Regions from separate parts of the Homo sapiens genome. Here region 1 is linked to region 2. The links come from fine-mapping of genetic effects on gene expression. A gene starts in region 2. The other region holds a variant in brackets. All regions are shown on one strand. Distances are from middle to middle. Region 1 overlaps HSPA12A (heat shock protein family A (Hsp70) member 12A). Region 2 holds the start of SPMIP5 (sperm microtubule inner protein 5).

What was found.
Region 1: its variant is fine-mapped to the expression of SPMIP5 in tibial nerve (GTEx, PIP 0.96).

Annotation. Positions count from the first base shown.
Region 1 is chr10:116,706,632-116,715,865 of GRCh38, reverse strand. It overlaps HSPA12A (heat shock protein family A (Hsp70) member 12A), which reads left to right. Exons shown (of 12, transcript NM_025015.3): 2 at 8,581-8,666. Among named protein-coding and RNA genes, the nearest start is that of HSPA12A, 31 kb to the left of the region's middle. The variant G/A (reference allele first, on the strand shown) is at 4,619.
Region 2 is chr10:116,666,031-116,674,030 of GRCh38, reverse strand. SPMIP5 (sperm microtubule inner protein 5) reads left to right here and starts at 4,065. Exons shown (of 6, transcript NM_001350931.2): 1 at 4,065-4,104; 2 at 5,708-5,773. The coding sequence starts at 5,719. HSPA12A (heat shock protein family A (Hsp70) member 12A) reads left to right here. Exons shown (of 12, transcript NM_025015.3): 12 at 1-2,839. It overlaps HSPA12A-AS1 (HSPA12A antisense RNA 1), which reads right to left and starts at 3,976. Exons shown (of 3, transcript NR_187551.1): 1 at 3,753-3,976; 2 at 3,546-3,637; 3 at 1,293-1,826.

The DNA of each region.
Region 1 (9,234 bases), 41 kb before region 2:
CCTTCCCAAGCTTTCAGAGTCCACATTTGTAGGTTTCAGTGAACTCGTATCCTTATTGGTTTGTTCATTCATTTGCCAAATATGTGTGGAGCACCTACCATGTATGGGCCAGGTGCTCTGATGGACAGCGGAAGAAAAACATTGACCTGCCGTCCGGGAGCTTCCATGTAACTGGCACATTCAAATCACAATTATTTTATTATGGAAAGTTTTAAACATACAAAAGCAGAGCAAATATTATACTGAAGCCTCATGAATCTGTCACCAGTTTTAGTCATTATCAACTTGTGGCCAACCTTGTTTAATCCCTGCCCCTTCCCTCTCCTGCTATTCTGGTACAAATCCCAGAAATGCTATTGTTTTGTCTGTACATTTGAGAATGTATCCCTAGAGGACAAGGGCTCTTTTAAAAATTATGTAACTGTACTATTAATAATAATCCCTTAGCATTACCAATGTCTGGTCAGCATTTACGTTTCTAATTGGCTCATAAATGTAACATTTTTGGATTGTTTGAGTTAGGATCCACTAAAGGTCCATCCACTGCATTTACTGGAGTTGATGTGTGTTTTAAGTCTCTTCTAAGCTGTCGCAGTTGGTCTCCGGGGCAGTCAGGATAGCCTGGGAAATTATCAGTGCAAATTGTCAGCCAGCCTCAGACCTACTGGATGAGAAACTCTGGGGGTGAGACCATTAATCTGTGTTTTAACAAGCCTCGGGGGTTCTGATGCACAGCAGAGCTGAGACCTTCTAGTCCATAGGTTTGCCCTCCTTTCCTGTAGATTTTCCTTGTGATTATCTTTAGGAGAAACCTGTCTCTCTTGTCGAGTTTCCCCCATCTGGGTTTTCCAGTTGATCACCAGGAACTGATGCACAAGTTCTTCTCTCATCTGCACCGGGGGAGCTGAGAAGGCTCTTCTCTCTTAAAAGAGGAGGCTGACTTTTAGAGGTGGAGGTCCCTGAAGGGTGATGCAGAATTTGCCTGCTGTAGAAGCAGGATGCACGCTAGGCAGGGGAACAGCATGTGCAGTGCCCAGAGGCTGAATCAAGCACAGATGTTCCAAGGCCTGTGGATAGGTTTGGTATGGCCAGGGATGTGGGGCAGTAGAGAGAGAAGAGACTGCAGAGGAAGGTGGGGTGGACTTAGAAGAGCCTGGGGTCAGTAGTGTGCTGGACTTTATTGCATGGGAAATGGGCATCAGGGGAAGACCCTGACAAGGTTGAGTTAGGTGAGCAGACCTTGATTTTGACCAGATGGCTTTCTCTGTATCTGCAGTCATGGCTTTAACTGCAGGGTGAGTGTGTCTGGGGGAGGGGGCAGGCCCAGGACAGGGAGACTGAAAGTTCAGGAGGATCTGGACCAAGGCTGTAGTGGTGACTTAGCAGAGGAGCCAGCGAATGCAAGAGATGCTAATTAGAAGGAGTGATAGGGCTTGGGGGTAGAATGAGAAAGGAGGAAGTCTAGGGACTCTTCCATCTGGGAGCAGTGGTGGTTTTACTGGCAAAAGGGGTATCTGAGGAGAGAGGCAGACCTGGGTGGTTTGAGAGCTGATCCCACATTGTTGGAGGTCACTCAGCATAGCATGTATGTTACTAATATCCAACTCAAGAGAGTTGATGCCTCAGTTGGGAAAGAACTCCCTGACACTCTTAGTCTGTGGATAGTCACTGAGTCCACTTTTGGGTACACATAAAAAGTCCATCCATTCATCCATCCATCCACTCATCTATCCATCCATCCATCTATCCACTTACCAACCCATCCATCCGTCCATCCATCCACTCACCCACCCACCCACCTATCCATCCATCCACCCACCATCCACCCACCCATCCATCCATCCATCCATCTATCCATCCATCCATCCATCCAACATTGAGTGCTTGTGACATGTCAAGAGCTAAGGAATTAGAGATGAAGTAAGACTTGGCCCTACCCCAACAAGCAGAGTCCATGGGAGAGAAGCCAGGAGGACAGAAACATCTTAGTACCATGTGTAGGGTGATCTGGTAGAGCCTCTTCAAATGCTGGATGCTGGAGGGAAGGGCTGTAAGGTTGAGGAGTGTAATTCATGAAAATTAGTAGTAAAACTGTTGGTCAAGCAAGTGTGTCTTCACCTCTCCCAGCAGTTGCCTGGACATGTATAGACACAATTGGAGGCCCACGGACCAATGCATGAACCTGCAGTTAGGAGAGAGACTGTGAACCACCCCTGTTGACAGTTTGGGATTGCAGGGACTCGGGGCTTTTCCTGTCTTGGGAAACTCAGCTGCCCCAGTTCGCTCTCCCTGCGACATTTCATCTCTTGGACTATTCAGGGAGGTAGGAGGGGTAACAAGAAGTTGCTACCCCGTGTCAGGATGGGCCTGATGCTGCCCCCAACTTGGCCTGGGCTTGATGCTACTGTCTCTGCCATGGTAAATGCTCATTTCCATAATTATTATTTAGCATTTGCAGAGTGGTTATTTTACACTCAGTGTTCTTTGTAGTGAGAGGGTCTCCTGGTTCATGCCAATAAAATTTCCATTTACTCTGGACATCCACCATAGTGATTAAAAACAGCCCATAAATTATTTACTGAAATGGAAGTTCAGCTTACAGTAATAATGCATTAGTTCAGCTAGCCATGAAGCCTGTTATAGGGTAATAAAAGATTTTTTATTTTCCTTCTGAAAAGATGTTTGCCAGTAACCTACATATGACCTTGAGCTGATCAGTTTTCAAAGATGACACTGCAGGCAGGCATATAAGGAGAGAAAGAGAGAGAGGTTTTTTTTTTTTAAATAGCCTGATTTTAGGCAATCGTTAGCAAAGGCCTGACATCTGACAGCCAGCAGGGAAAAAGAAATGCAAATATATATATATATATATATATATATATATATATTGCATTTTTTAAAATCATAAGTACCAGACCTTAAAACTCCTTTTCAAATTGGGCATTTATTTGATGGATACGTAAATCTGAAAGCTAACAAGAAGGACTGTTTAGAGAAACTAGAATGTCACTATTGTTGAGACCACCTGTCACATTTCCTCGGAGCCTAGAACCTTGTAGAATAAAGTCAGCCCTATGGTTCTGTCTTCATCTTTAAACATGTATTTATGGAGCAGAATTGATTTTATGTATCTCAGAGAGTCTGTGATTCTGCTCACGGCCATTTGCTGACTAATGACTTTGGCAGAGGAGAACAGCAAGCAAGTTCATGAATTATGGCTCTCTTTGAGGTTCTCTTATCAAGACTATTTTTTATTTTAAGAACATCTGCTTTGATTAAAGCCATTAGAGCTGGGACCACATAAAATTGTGTCTGAATTTTATATGTGTTGCATTTTACAGCAGGAACCCAGATGAAGCCTGCATTTTAATCCTTAAACCAATAAGACCAGCGATGAGGATTAACCTAACAAACTAAACTAGTTCCTCCTCAATTGCCTGGTTTGGGGTTGTAAGAAATCCTGGGGCAGGAGACTTGTTGGCCAGGATTTGATACTTTTATTTATTTGTCCTCTACATTGCTGCAAAAATATTTTCATTTCTTTATATACCCCTCTTTCTGGCAAAAATTGTTTAATGTGTTGGGGTGGGGTGTTCCAGGATTGTGAGTTAATCTATAACCACCCTCATCACCTTATTTTTATGTTCACTAAAGTTAAAAAAGATTTTCTGCTCACTAGCTCTGCAAGACTGAAGTGATGTTAAATTATCTAACACGTAGCTAATAGCAAAGGAGACATGATGATTAATTTTTGTTTGTTCCCCAGAAAGCTCTTCTGTTTGTTTCCCAGAAAGGTCTGTTCCCCAGAAAGGTCTCTTCCCCTTCCGCTTAACCATAGTTTTGTGGCTAGTAGTTTGCATTCTTGAAAGGGTCAGTGTTGGCCGGGCACAGTGGCTCACGCCTGTAATCCCAGCAGTTTGGGAGGCCGAGGCCAGCGGATCACAAGGTCAGGAGATCGAGACCATCCTGGCTAACACAGTGAAATCCTGTCTCTACTAAAAATAAAAAAATTTAAAAATTTAAAAAAAAAAAACATTAGCTGGGCGCGTTGGCAGGCGCCTGTAGTCCCAGCTACTCGGGAGGCTGAGGCAGGAGAATGTCGTGAACCTGGGAGGTGGAGCTTGCAGTGAGCCGAGATCGCACCACTGCACTCAGCCTGGGCGACAGAGCGAGACTCAGTCTCGAAAAAAAAAAAAAAGAAAAAAAAAGAAAGAGTCAGTGTTTCTCTGATTCCTTGATGTGAAAACATTGACTCTCTCTGTATTATGGGATTTCAGGGTAACTTAGTGCTTGAAGTGGAAGATGCTTTGAGTAGGCCTTTATTTAATCTACTTGGAACGGTGCTGTAGGTATTTCTTAAAACTCCTAGTTCCTTTAGCTCTGTCCTTGATCACATTTCTTGATAGAGCATTTTCTTTAACCTGTCTTTTAGCAATCTTCCTTCTCTACCTCCACAGAAGGGTCTGGATTTTCTTTTCTTCAGCTTCCTTTCTTTCTCTCAAGCCTCGACTATAGGAAACTCTATTTGTGTCGAGGTGTTGACTTAGCCTTTCTCTTCTGTTCCTAGTGTGTCCAAGTCAACCTGTGGGGACTGAACTGGACTATCCCCTGGGTGAGA[G/A]TAGTCCCGAGGGAGATGTTGTTGTATTAGCTTTATAGAAGCAGTGGAGGCAGGGCCACACTTAATGGCATTTGGGATTCCTTACTATAGATAATGGCCTCTGTATAATTGACAGCCAGGACACACAGCCTACACTTGGTATGTATAGGGCATTCCATACATCAATTCTCTCCTGTTGTCCATTAGCTTATATCTGTCAGATATTCATAGATTAATAGATAATATTCTGTATTTTATTTCTGATCATTTACCTACTGAATGAAAGATCTCAAGCCTTGTTGGGACACATCAGAATTAAACTCCCCATTCTCCTCAGGGGGTGAGATAGGCTTTTCCGTTTTTTTTCCCCTGAGAATTTTTGAGCATCATTTTGACATCCTAAGTAGTGAAGTAGAGAAACAGTAGCATGTCTCTACTGGCTGTGTATATTTCTGTGCTGTACTGATGGACATTCGCTGGTGAATTATCTTTGATTTGGAATATACAGATATATAGATGTGGGTGTGCACCATGTGCAGGTATCTCTGAAAATGTTACCCCTCCATACCTTCTGTGCAGATCAGTTTTCAATCATTGCACAGTGTAGCTGAATTTTAACTTCTGATGGAAAAAGTCCATGAAGTTCGGCTGCCTCTAGGCCTGGCTGAGTGATCAGCAAGTCAAATGATTTGTTTAATATTGGCCCAGTTGCCGTGGGGTTGAAGGGAGGTACAGCAGAACCAAAAAATCCTTGCTTCTTGCCCTCAAAGTATCCTAGAGTCCCCTGGGGACCCAAGACATGTGTTCCATGTGTGGCTCAACCTTGGCTATTTTGCAAATCAGTGAGAAGACCCAGGGCTCTGAGAAGGGCTGAGTGATGGGATAATTAGGACCAAGCAGCAGCGGGGTGGATAGTTTGTCTGCAGATAATAGCTTGTTTGCTAATTGCCAACACCAGATTTTCTGGGCAATTAGACATTTGGTTTCTTTCAGGACCGTCTGTGCAAATGTGGACACATGGCGCAGGCCTTCCAGGTAGCAGGTGGAGAGGGTGGCTTCTGGTGCTGATGGCATTTCTCCGCAGGCTGCCCAAGGGCTGTGGGCAGGGAGGACCTCTCACCAACAGGTGGAAGGACCATCTGGCTGGAACCCCTAGTGGGGAGGCAGAGTTCCCCCTGCATTCATGGAAGGGGTTCCCTTGTGCTGGGAGATTAGCAAAGATGGTGGAGATCAGCAGGCTGGTCTAGGAACTGAGCTGACTTCTCCATTCTCTTTTCAAGAGCAATTAGCGCCCACGGCTAATAGCAATTCTGTTAGTCGTGGGTGCTAATAGAAATCAGAAATAGCTTCCCCTCCCAGATGAGCAAGTTGATTTAAACTTTTCAATAAAGTTTTTTTAAAAAGTATGTATAACATAAAATTTGCCACTTAAACCATTTTAAGTGTATGATTCAGTGGCATGAATTATATTCACAATGTTGTGCAACCATCACCACTATCTATTTCCAAAATTTTTCACTACCCCAAAGAGAAATTCTGTACTCATTAAGCAAGAACTCTCCATTTCTCCCTTCCTCTTACCCCTGGTCACCTCTCATCTACTTTCTGTCTCTGTGAATTTGCCTATTCTGGAGATTTCCTATAAGTGGAATGATACAATATTTGTCCTTTTGCATCCATGTATTTTACTTAGCATATTTTCTAGGTTCACCTATGTTATAGCATGTATAAGAATGTTCTTCCTTTTTACAATGAAATACTATTCTGTTGTATGGATATACCACATTTGGTTTATCCCTTCATCTTTTTTTTTTTTTTTTTTGAGATGGAGTCTTGCTCTGTCACCAGGCTGGAGTGCAGTGGCACAATCTCGGCTCACTGCACCCTCCGCCTCCTGGGTTCAAATGATTCTCCTGTCTCAGCCTCCCGAGTAGCTGGGACTACAGGCATGTGCCACCACGCCTGGCTAATTTTTGTATTTTTAAGTAGAGATGGAGTTTCACCATGTTGGCAAGGCTGGTCTTCAGCTCCTGACCTCAAGTGATCTGCCCACCTTGGCCTCCCAAAGTGCTGGGATTATAGGCGTGAGCCACCGCGCCCAGCCTATCCCTTCATCTGTTGTTGGACACTGGAAGTGTTTCCACCTTTCTGTTATTGTGAATAATGCTGCATGAACATTTGCATATAAGTATCTCCTTGAGTCCCTGTTTTCAGTTTTTTGGGTAGATACCTAGGAGTGGAATTGCTGGTCATATGGTAATTCTGTACTTGACTTTTTGAGGAACTGCCAAACTCTTTTCCACAGCAGTTGTCCCGTTTTATATTCCCACTAGCAATGCTCAAGGATTCCAATTTCTTCACATCCTTGACACACTTGTTATTTTCCTTTCTTAAAAAACTGTAGCCATCCTAGTCAGTGTGAAGCCATATCTCACTGGTTTTGATTAGCATTTCTCTACAGACTAATGATGTTGAACATCTTTTCATATACTTGTTGATATATCTTTTGTGTATTTTCTTTGGAGAAATGTCTATTCAAGTCCTTTACCCAGCGAGTTGGATTTTTGCCTCTGTAATTACTGGACTGTGCCTCTCCCTCCCCAAGATAGGAACTGAGCCTCATCAGGCGGAGAGAGGCTGTGAGCTTGCAGAGAGTGGGAGGTGGCTGTGCAGATTTGAGGCTTCACATTCCCTCTTGCATGATTCATTTCATTCCTACAGCCTGTTTGGTGCCCACTGTAATGATGCTGCCTGAGTCCTCATCAAGTAGAAAAAGTAATCAGCAAGAGCCTGGGATTAACCCAAAGTGATTTAGCAGAAGAGGCAGATGGAACCATTCCACCTGCTCCCCTAGAAGCAGACAGGCTTTTCTCAGACACCTCAAACCTTCTGGTTTCCTTGACCACAAGTATTGCCTTGGAAAATTACCCACTTCTTCCTAGCAGGTTTCAGTACGTATGTACTAAACGGAGCAGGATGTGCAGAGCACCGAGGGTGGTGCTGGGTCGTTGCACGTGCCCAGTGCCCGGCCTTCGTCTCTGCGGTGGGAGCACGCAGTCTTCACTCAGCTTCTCTGTGCCCTGCCAGCCCTAGGCAGCAGGCAGGGAGAGCACTGTAGCGCGTTCCAATGCCGGCCAGGGAGAGTGTTTTTTCTCCCGGGGGGCCCATTCCTGGGGCAGAGCCACTGGCTCTGGGAAGACTTCAGAAAAATGCTAGGCCTGAATGATGGTGAGTGCAGGGGAACAGACAAAATGGTGTTCCTGCTGCTTAGCTGCTGGCCCTTCGCCTGTTTGACCTCGTGGCTGTTGGGTCCCATCTGCAGGGGCTAGAAATGCTGATCTGTCTGCCTTTTTGCTGTGGTTTTTATGATTGAAAAAGGTCCCAAACCTTCAGTATCACTGAAGAGAGATGAATTCACATGCCCTGGCAGGGGGAGGGAGGAGCTGGTGCATCTGCTAGGCAAGGACGCTCTTTCTGAAGCTTCATCACATCCTACATTCCTAGGATAGGGGTTGCTCTTCCTTGGGGGAGGTACCCCTCACCCCTTTGGGAACCCGAGGGCTGTAGATGCTCTTCCAAGAAAATGCACACAAAAATTTGACATAATTTCAGGTGGCTACAGGTCCTGCTAGTCCATCATGGAGCCTGGCCTCTGGCTCCACAGACAACACAGCCAGGAGCGGAGCTTTCGGGGACTGACCAGCATCTCCAACTAAGCTGGGTTGAGTGGCACAGAGTGAGAGGCCTGGTGGCGACTGGGAGGAAAGGAGCATCTCATTTGGTCGAATTCTAAATACCAAATGCAAAGAGGTGCTGGAACGGATGTTCCTGCCTTCCTGGCTGGGGCTGGGCCTTGCCCATTTCGTGAGCTGGCTTTGCAGAGGCCGCAGTTCCTGGAGGAGTTAAGGCCATGCAGCCCTCATTTCTTCCCCCTGGGTCAGTCCATGCCACTTCTAAGGAGGCGGCTTTGTTTTTCCTTTCAGAAACGGCTCCCACATCTGCATATTCATCTCCAGCCCGGAGTCTTGGGGACACAGGAATAACGCCTCTGTCCCCCTCCCATATTGTGGTAAGAAGTGTGTGTGTGTGTGTGTGTGTGTGTGTGTGTGTGTGTGCGCGCATGGGTGCGCATGAGCACACGTGCGTACTGACTTCCTTTGCATTCTGGGTCTGATCTCACAGTTCAGGCTGCTGGACAGCCCCTCACATTCACTGGTTGGAGATTAAGTTGACCTGGTCCTGGCCAAAGGAGCCCTGCCAAGCCCCTTCCCCCACTCCGAGCCTGGGAAGGCTTTCTGTGCTGTGGCTAGTGCTTCTGGAGCAGGGGCCTGGGTGGGTCACAGAAGAAGGTGAGATGGGAGCAGCCCTTTAAAGATTCAGGGTCAGAGCCTGTGAGGTGTCCTCTTGAGAGGAAGCCGCTGACTCTGGGCTAGTGAATCGGTGAATACATGGACTCTGTTGACTGCGGTTGTCTGCAGTATCGAAAAGACCCTAGCAGTATAATCGCTTCTGGAACAGCTTGCCTGGTAGAGAAGCCCTGAGCAGGGCTTCATATGCATTGAGTGGGGCTAGAGATGGGGCTGTTGCTCCCACCCTGCCCTGTATGAGGAAAGATGGATGTTAGGGGGCGGCCGTTT
Region 2 (8,000 bases):
TGCTGTGACATAAATTCCCAGCATGCCCAGCCCTGATTTCTGAGTTCATAAGTAATTCTAGTGAACCTTAGTAGGAATTCTGGGTAAGAAAATGAGGTTGCCATTGGTCTTGTTTGCATCACCAAGACCAGACATCCAGAAGAGCCCCTCACCTTGAAAAGCAGACAGATTTTAAATTAACCCCCTCCTTCCCACTCACCTTCATCTCCCTAAGAGTTTTGGCCATTTAATTCCACATTTTGAAAGGAATACATTGGTGAAATTTGGGAAGAGAATCTGTGCTATGCAATGTTTCATTAAAATCTTCAGTTTTTCAAGTCTCTCTAAAAATAATTTGTAGATCTATACTTGATGTATTAAGTCAGTTTTTTTTCACAGCGGGCCTGTGGCTCGCCTGCATCAGAATTGCCTGGGTGCGTGTTCAGAACAGGTTCCTGGATCTGAGCCCTTTTTAACTGAGGCCGACTCTTGGAGAGGGGCACCAGAATCTGCATTTGTAGTGTATACCACATCGTGGTTCAACTGAAATTGGAGAAATACTAACCTGAGATTTTGTTGAAGTTCACACACAGATCACAGCCCGCCCTCTGCAGGTGTCCCCTTTGGGCTCCTTTAGGAAGAGGGCTTCCATGAGAAGGTGACCCCATACCTTGCCCTCTTGGTCAATGGGATTGGGGCTCCACCTGGCTTGGAGATGGCCCTTTTAACCCTCACAGGAAGGGCCAGGGGAGGAAAAAAATTGCAAGAAAGCGACACCAAGAACGGAGCTGACTGAGGAACCAACTGGAGGGTCTTCACTCTCTCCTTCCCCAGTGTACAAAACCAGTTTTCTGCAACATTCAGGAGCCAAATGAGGAAAAAGAATCAAGAATCTGACTCACAGCCCATCTGATCTGTTCAAAGCTGTCTTTTCCACCTGCTGAAATTCATTAAATCACTGGAGGCATGCATAATGAATGGAGAATGAGTGAACTTCCAATGCAACTTGGATTCACAAACCCATTATCATAGCCAATATGCAGATTTTAAACAGCATTTCACATTTCATTTGACCATGTCTTCTTTTTCGCATCGCCTGCTGCAGAATTCCCTACTAGAATGTGAAACAACGAACAAACCACAGAACTTAGAGTGTGCTGGTTAGTCACATAACTTAGTAGCAGGATTGTGTATCCAGGCACAAAGGTGTCTTTGCTAATGTTCTCTTGCTACCTGCCCTGCTTCAAACGCTAAATGGTATGGGTCTTTCTTTGTTGCCAGCCATATTCTACAAATAAGACTTTTCAATATAGTTATGAGTAATATAATTTTATGTACATATAATGTTAGAATATTGTACAGAATCTTGGTTTCTACGATGCGCTTTTCTTGTTTCAAAAAGAGGAAAATGCTTGATTTTTGTTGATGATACTTTTGTTACTGTCCTTAATTTTCCATAGTTTGGTTTCTTAATTGTGCTCACTAAGCATCGATCTGTGCTGATGCCAAGCTATGGACTATGTACGCAAGACCGAGCAATAGACAGAGGTGCCTAGGGTCCAAACACACTGAACGCACGTGGACCGCCTGGATCAGGAGCCTCATCAGACCCTTCTCCATGCACATCCTTCCCAAACAGTCACAGATTCCATTGAAAGGAGCAGATTCTATCAGTTCTTCTGTGCAGACTTTAAGAGCTGAACGTTCTGGTTCTGGAAGCCATGTGACTGCGCAGAACAACCTAAGAAACCCTTTGTGTCCTGAGGGGTCGTTGACCTCTCCTTCCGGGTCGGAGCAGTCACTCTGAGGGCAAAGCGTGGTCCACTGTGTGTGATGTTTTCAGGATGCTAGGGTCAAAGAAAGAAACCAAGTGGTACATAAGCCCAGCTTTTCTGCTGGGCTAAGTGTAAGTGTGAGTAACATGGTCAAGCCCCTCTTTTTTGGGCTAATGTAAAGCCTTTCCTGCCTTGCATTAATGCTATCTCCCTGTGTACTGTTTCTCTTAAATGAGCAGATAGAAATCTGCAGTGTTGGCAGATAGGTGATGGAGAGGATGATAATTTTATCTTCTGGCCACAGAGCTGCAGCCCCAGTTGTCAGAGTCCTTAAATGAAACCCCCAAATCCATCCCTCCTTCCCTACCCCCACTGGAATATTCTAGAATAAGAGCACTGGATAAGTACACTTGAACACATTTTTCTAACCTTAGAAAATACCTACAAGGCCTGTTGTCTTGACCCATTACTCAATTGTCCCTGGCATATTATCTGATCTTCACGTTTCTTGGAAGCAGAATCATCAAGGCTTTCCTTTGTAACTGCCCTTTCCGTACACAGCAGGCATGAATAAATGCTGAGTAACAGACAAGTTACAGACAGGAGGGGAAAGAGGAGGAACCATACAACTGTTTTTGCAAAATGATGGCTGAGTCCAGATTATAGAGGTTGCCTTACCCTTAGAATGTTATTTAGACCAAGTTTAGCTTTTAGAGTCCAGGTCTGGTTAATTGCCAGGGTAGCAAAGAATCGCATGCACCAATGTAAACAGGAGTCAGAATGCATTATTAGTCAAAGATCGAATTTCACATTGTAGAGATGTATAGCTGTGATTAAGCTGCATATGTATGCTGGGAAACGGCTTGAGTGGATGGCTAATATAAAAGTTGTTGGCCATAATGCCACACCTCTCATCTGCTTGAAATATGGACCAGTATTCTAAAATATCAGCTACTGGGGTCTCATTCACTACAAGATAAATTCAAACTTCACAGAACTTTGCAGCAGTTCACCACCAGACGGGACTGTGTCTGCAAACTCTCTTGTCTTCACAGACGCCTAATAAAGCAAAACTCTGAATCTCATGTGGCCCAGATTTTTTTTCCCCCCATCCTGGGTTTGCAAACTGCATGATGGACACGTCAGTACTGATCTCCCTCTCTACCCCATCTCAGGTGGTGGAGAGAGAGTTTCAGTTTTTTCCAGGTGCTGTAAGTTTTCTTAAGTTATTCTAACAAGACTAGGCCCTTTGTTTGCTGGGAACCAAGGCCCCATCGATGGGCACAGAGCCCCTTTTCTCTGGAAGAAAGTGGTCTAGCCAGAGGGAGGGCAGGTAAGCAGAGTGACCACTGCCAATGCCACTGCACCCCAGTGTAAGTCATTAAAACATGCAGAAGGCCTGGCTGGGCTCTTGCCCCTGGGCATCCCAGCCGTCACGTGAAACTGGCTGTGTCCAGAGCCTACACCTGAGTCGCCCTCCACAGTTGGCTCTGAAAGCTTCCTGATGGCCCGAGGTATGTTCTAAATGGGGTGATAAAAGAGAGGTATAAATGGTGGTCGGCTCCACCAGCCTTCATTTGCAGTTCAATTTTCAGAAAAGTAGAGGTAGGGAAGGCCGGGAGGTGCAGCAAACAAGCGTGTCCTGGAAGTAGCGCAGCTTCAGCGTCATTTTCTGTAAAGGGAGCAGCCAGCACATGCTGGTTCATAGGGCGGACATCTTGGTGGGTTTCAATTCAATGAGAGGAAGTCTGGGTGTCCCTCCAAGAGTGATTAGAAAGAAGGATGACTCACCTTCCCCAGGTGGACAGCCACTCCTCTCTGCCTTCACCTGTCCCGGCCACCTGAAAATCTGCCCCTCCTAACAGGAGACAGGGAGGGAGGGGCTGCCAGGCCCAGGAAGCTCCTGTATTGGAGGCGCCAGGGCCCCCAGGCCTCGCCTCCTCCCGCCCACTGCCGGCCCCGCCCCCTGTTCCCGCCCACCCGCTTCCCCGGCCAGACCTGCAGACCCAGGCGCCGCAGTGTCTACACCCGCAAAAACGCCCGCTTTGACTTAGAGCCCTCCGCATATCCTTCCCCTGGCTGGGGCAGCCAAGGCGCGGAGGACAGCTCCGAGGCCAGATGTTTACTGCGCAGATGCCCGACTTTACACCGGGGTCCGGGCTGTGCCGGGCGCTGGGGGAAGCGCCCACCTTCCAGGTGGGACCGCGGGAAGGGTGGGGGAGGGGCAGGCTGGCGGTGGTGGGGCCTTTGTGCTCCACCGGGTGAGCGCACAAAGGCCTGGTGGAAGGCAGGGATCCTGGGCGGCCGGGCAGAGGCCAAGTGGGCACCGGATAGCGCCAGCCCCGCCCAGGTGAGCGCTGAGGTGGGATTGGAAGAGGGTGGCTAGGAGGGGCCCTACTTTCTACCCACTCCTAGCCCCCTTTCTCAGGACACCGCCTTTCTTCCCACCCTCCTCCCTGCCCACCTCCTCCAGGCAGGCTTATACCCCAGCTGATGCTTTTGGGCAACATATCCTGTCCCTGAGAGTTTAGAGGTCATCTGTTCGCACCCCCTTTCACTCTGGAACCCTGAAACCAGTTACCTAACCTCTCTGTGCCTTATTTTTCACATTTATAAAATGGGGGTTCCAACAGGAACTCATTCTTAGGGAAGCTGTGGGGATTAAAGGAGAATGCGGTTCTGCTGCAACCACATGGGGATAGCCAGTGTTCCCTGTCTGTTGCCTTTTTAAATTGGGGAATGGGTATAATATAGCATTTATATCATGGGGCTGTTGAGAGGATTAAACAAGCGTGGAAAGCTTTCAGAAAAGTAAGCAGGTGGTCAGTATGGGTGGGACATGGTCTCACAGCCAGGTCTGTCTGACTCCAGGCCCAGTGCTTCCTCCCAGGAGTCAGGTACGTGATGCCAGGGGTTAGAGTGGCCTAGACGCGGCACAGTCCTCACTGCTGTCAGCCTGGCGGGGGCTGAACTGTCTTAACAATCCCCATCATTGCTGACTAAGCCATGACTGTGGCCCTCTCCTCCACCCTGAATCCTCTTCTTCCAGCCTCAAAGGCATTTCTTTAAAGAGATGAACTGGCTCAGCAGGGCAGGACTTGGCAAGGCCTCAGCCCACTTGGGGGGAATGACCAGCGATACCCAAAGAGGGAAGGTGTCTTATTGCAGAAACAGCATCCACATAAACTGATGTTTCAGTGGAGCCCCCTGAAGCAGAGGGTGGCCTCTGCTTACCCTCCTTGGACTCCATGTCTGCCTTTTGGGACTTCCTGATTCCTTCAAGCCAGAATTTCTTCTCCCTTGTTTGTGTGTGTGTGTGTGTGTGTGTGTGTGTGTGTGTGTGCATGTGTGTGCCGGCGGGTGGGGGGAGGCTTCTGAGCATTGCAGGATGTTCAGTAGCATCCCATCCCCCACTTCTGACAGCCAAATATGCCTCTGGACATTGCCAGATGTTCCAGGGGTAATGGTGGGGGCTGGCAAAAATCACCACTGCAACCTGATTTCACCTGGATCAAGAAGGAGGTCTGGGGGTGTGCGGGCCTCATCTCTCTCCTCACCTGAGGCTCATGAACCTAACACAGGGGCTTCTGGGCTTGCTCAGAAGCTTTGCATTCCCAGCCTCTATCATGTTTCACAGCCATAGTATGAGTACAGTTCACAATTGTTGGATGGCTGGAGGTCGGATGGAGGGGAGAGGAGACCCTGGTAGGTGTGATCTACACACTGTTATCCAAGTTAACATAAAAGGTGATGGGCCCTTGGTAATAGGTCATTGGTTTGTGACTGAAGCCAGCTGTGTCTCTGGCTTTGGGTAAGGTGGTAGTGCTGCCTCTCAGCCCCAACTCCTGGCAGTCATTCTTCCACTCCCAAGAGCTTGTGCACACTCAATAGTAATTCCTTAAGGCAGTGACTTTTGATGAGACCGTTTCATTCCCTCTTCCCTCCACTAACAGAGAGCGAAATCATGGAGCCTTCCAAGACCTTCATGAGAAACCTGCCAATCACACCAGGCTATAGCGGTAAGTGTGGACGTACCCTGCAGCTGTGCCTGGCAGGGGAACCCGGGTCCTGGTCACTGTCCCTGCCTTGACCCACTGTCTGTGTCTGTGCAGCCAACTGGACCAGTCTAGGCGCTCTAGCTTCTCAGACATGCATTGAGAGCATTCCATCGCTGAAGATGGCTGATGGCCGGGTTCTGAGGGGCAGAACTTAGACCACACGTCCCAGAACATGGCCTGGTATGCAGAGGAAGCACTTAATGCCTGTTGAATGAATTTGGACCAGGATAGACACAATGTGATGAGGATAGACACAATGTGATGAGGATAGACACATGAATAAGTAGAGGCCCTGTTCTCCCCAAGTTGGTTTTCTCAAGTCCTCCACAAAGGTTATTCTTGTGCTCCCATCCTTTCCTGCATCCCCTAAAGGAAGGCTGGCCAACTGCCCTGGTCTACCTGGGACTGCCTTTGTCCTGGGACTGCCTGGGACTTTCCTTAACACTGAAAATCTTGCATTTGGGAAACTCCTCAGTCCTTGGCAAACCAGGACGATTGGTTGCCCTACCTAGAGGCTATTCCTCCTCAGGCTTCTGGGCTACTGAGAACTTACTAAGTCATATCCCTGTGGGTGACAAACCCAGTGGTCCCCACAGACCCTTGGCTCTCCCATACAGCCGTTCTCAGGAGGAATAGTACTTGGGTGATATTCCAGGGTTGCCCAACCTCACTCTGGTCCTAATGGCTGGTTGAGAATAGGCTTTGGGTTCTGACAAGCTGAGGTTCGAATCTCTGTTTGGTCACTGTCGATGAGACTGTAAGTAACTTGCCTCTCTGTGGTAAGTACAACATTCTATAAAATGGATGTATTTGTTTTCTAGGACCACTGCAACAAATTACCACAAACTATGTGGTTTAAAGTGATGGAAATGCATTCCCTCACAGTTCTGAGGCCAGACGTCTGAAATCGAGGTGCCCGCAGGGCCATGCTCTTTCTGAAGGCGCTAGGGAAGGATCCCACCTTTGCTTCTTCCAGCTTCTGGTGGCCCCAGTGTTCTTGGCTTGTGGCAGCATCTCTCCAGTCACTCTCTTCATCCTCACACGGCATTTCCCCCTTTGTCTCTGTGTCACAAGTCTCTCTCTTCTTTCCTCTATAAGGACATCAGTCATCAGATTTAGGACCCACCCTAAATCCGGGATGATCTCATTTTTAGGCCCTTAACTTAATTACATCTGAGAAGTCCCTATTTGTAGATAAATGCACATTCACAGGTACCAGGGGTTAGGACTTGCATATATCTATTTGGAGGATACAGTTCAACCCACTACATGGGATACCATAAGATTGTTGTGAGGATTAAAGGAGCCAGCATACATAACCTATTTTAAATGTCTTGGTCCTTAGCGAGACTCGATAAAGGTAGTTCGTATGCTTATGTCTGTGCATATATGCACTAATATAAAACCTAGGCAGACCAAAGTCGGCCCTGATGGCAGGGAAACCACTGTGGCAAAGCCCCTAGGGTCTTCATAATGTTAGGATATCTTTTAATCATCCAAGGGTTGGGGAGTCTGGGCGATGCATGGAAGGCTTCCAACACTGTCAAGATTAGTTTAGTAATTAGGTTCTTCCAGAGGGGGTTATTGTAGGGCTCTGGGGGTGAGGATTGCTACTTTCAACTCTGAAGCCAGGTTTTGTTTTCCTGGAGACCATGGCAAAAATGTTGGGTTTCCATAAGGAGAGAGATTTATTTATTTATTTTGCAGTTTGAAACTAAGTTCTTAACCAGTTTTCCTCATTTGTTCTTCAAAAAAAAAAAAAATGGTTTTATTGTGACAATATTATAGTACTTAGGATTCAGCCTCCAGTTTAAGTAAATAGTTGTGTTTTACCCATACTAATTGTAATGATTATATGTTACTTGGTGGGAAATGGTGAAAAATTGTGCTAGGGGTGGGTCTTGCAGATAATGAATTTACCTTTTTGTGTAACAGGGCTCTACTTTTAATAAGCCTGCAATTTCCTGATGGTCCGGCAAGAAAGATCCCAAATTGCATTTGGGAAGTGTCGAGGAAAATAAGCTTTCTCTTTAAAAAGATGAATAATTTCAATTACTCCTTAGACTATCATTTTGGCCCATTAAATGCTTTCCCCATTTTCCGTCAGGCTGACATCAGGGGCTTTGCTATTCAAAGAGTATTACTGTCATCGCCTTTGTTGAAATGGGCCTTCCCTCCCCAGCTCCAA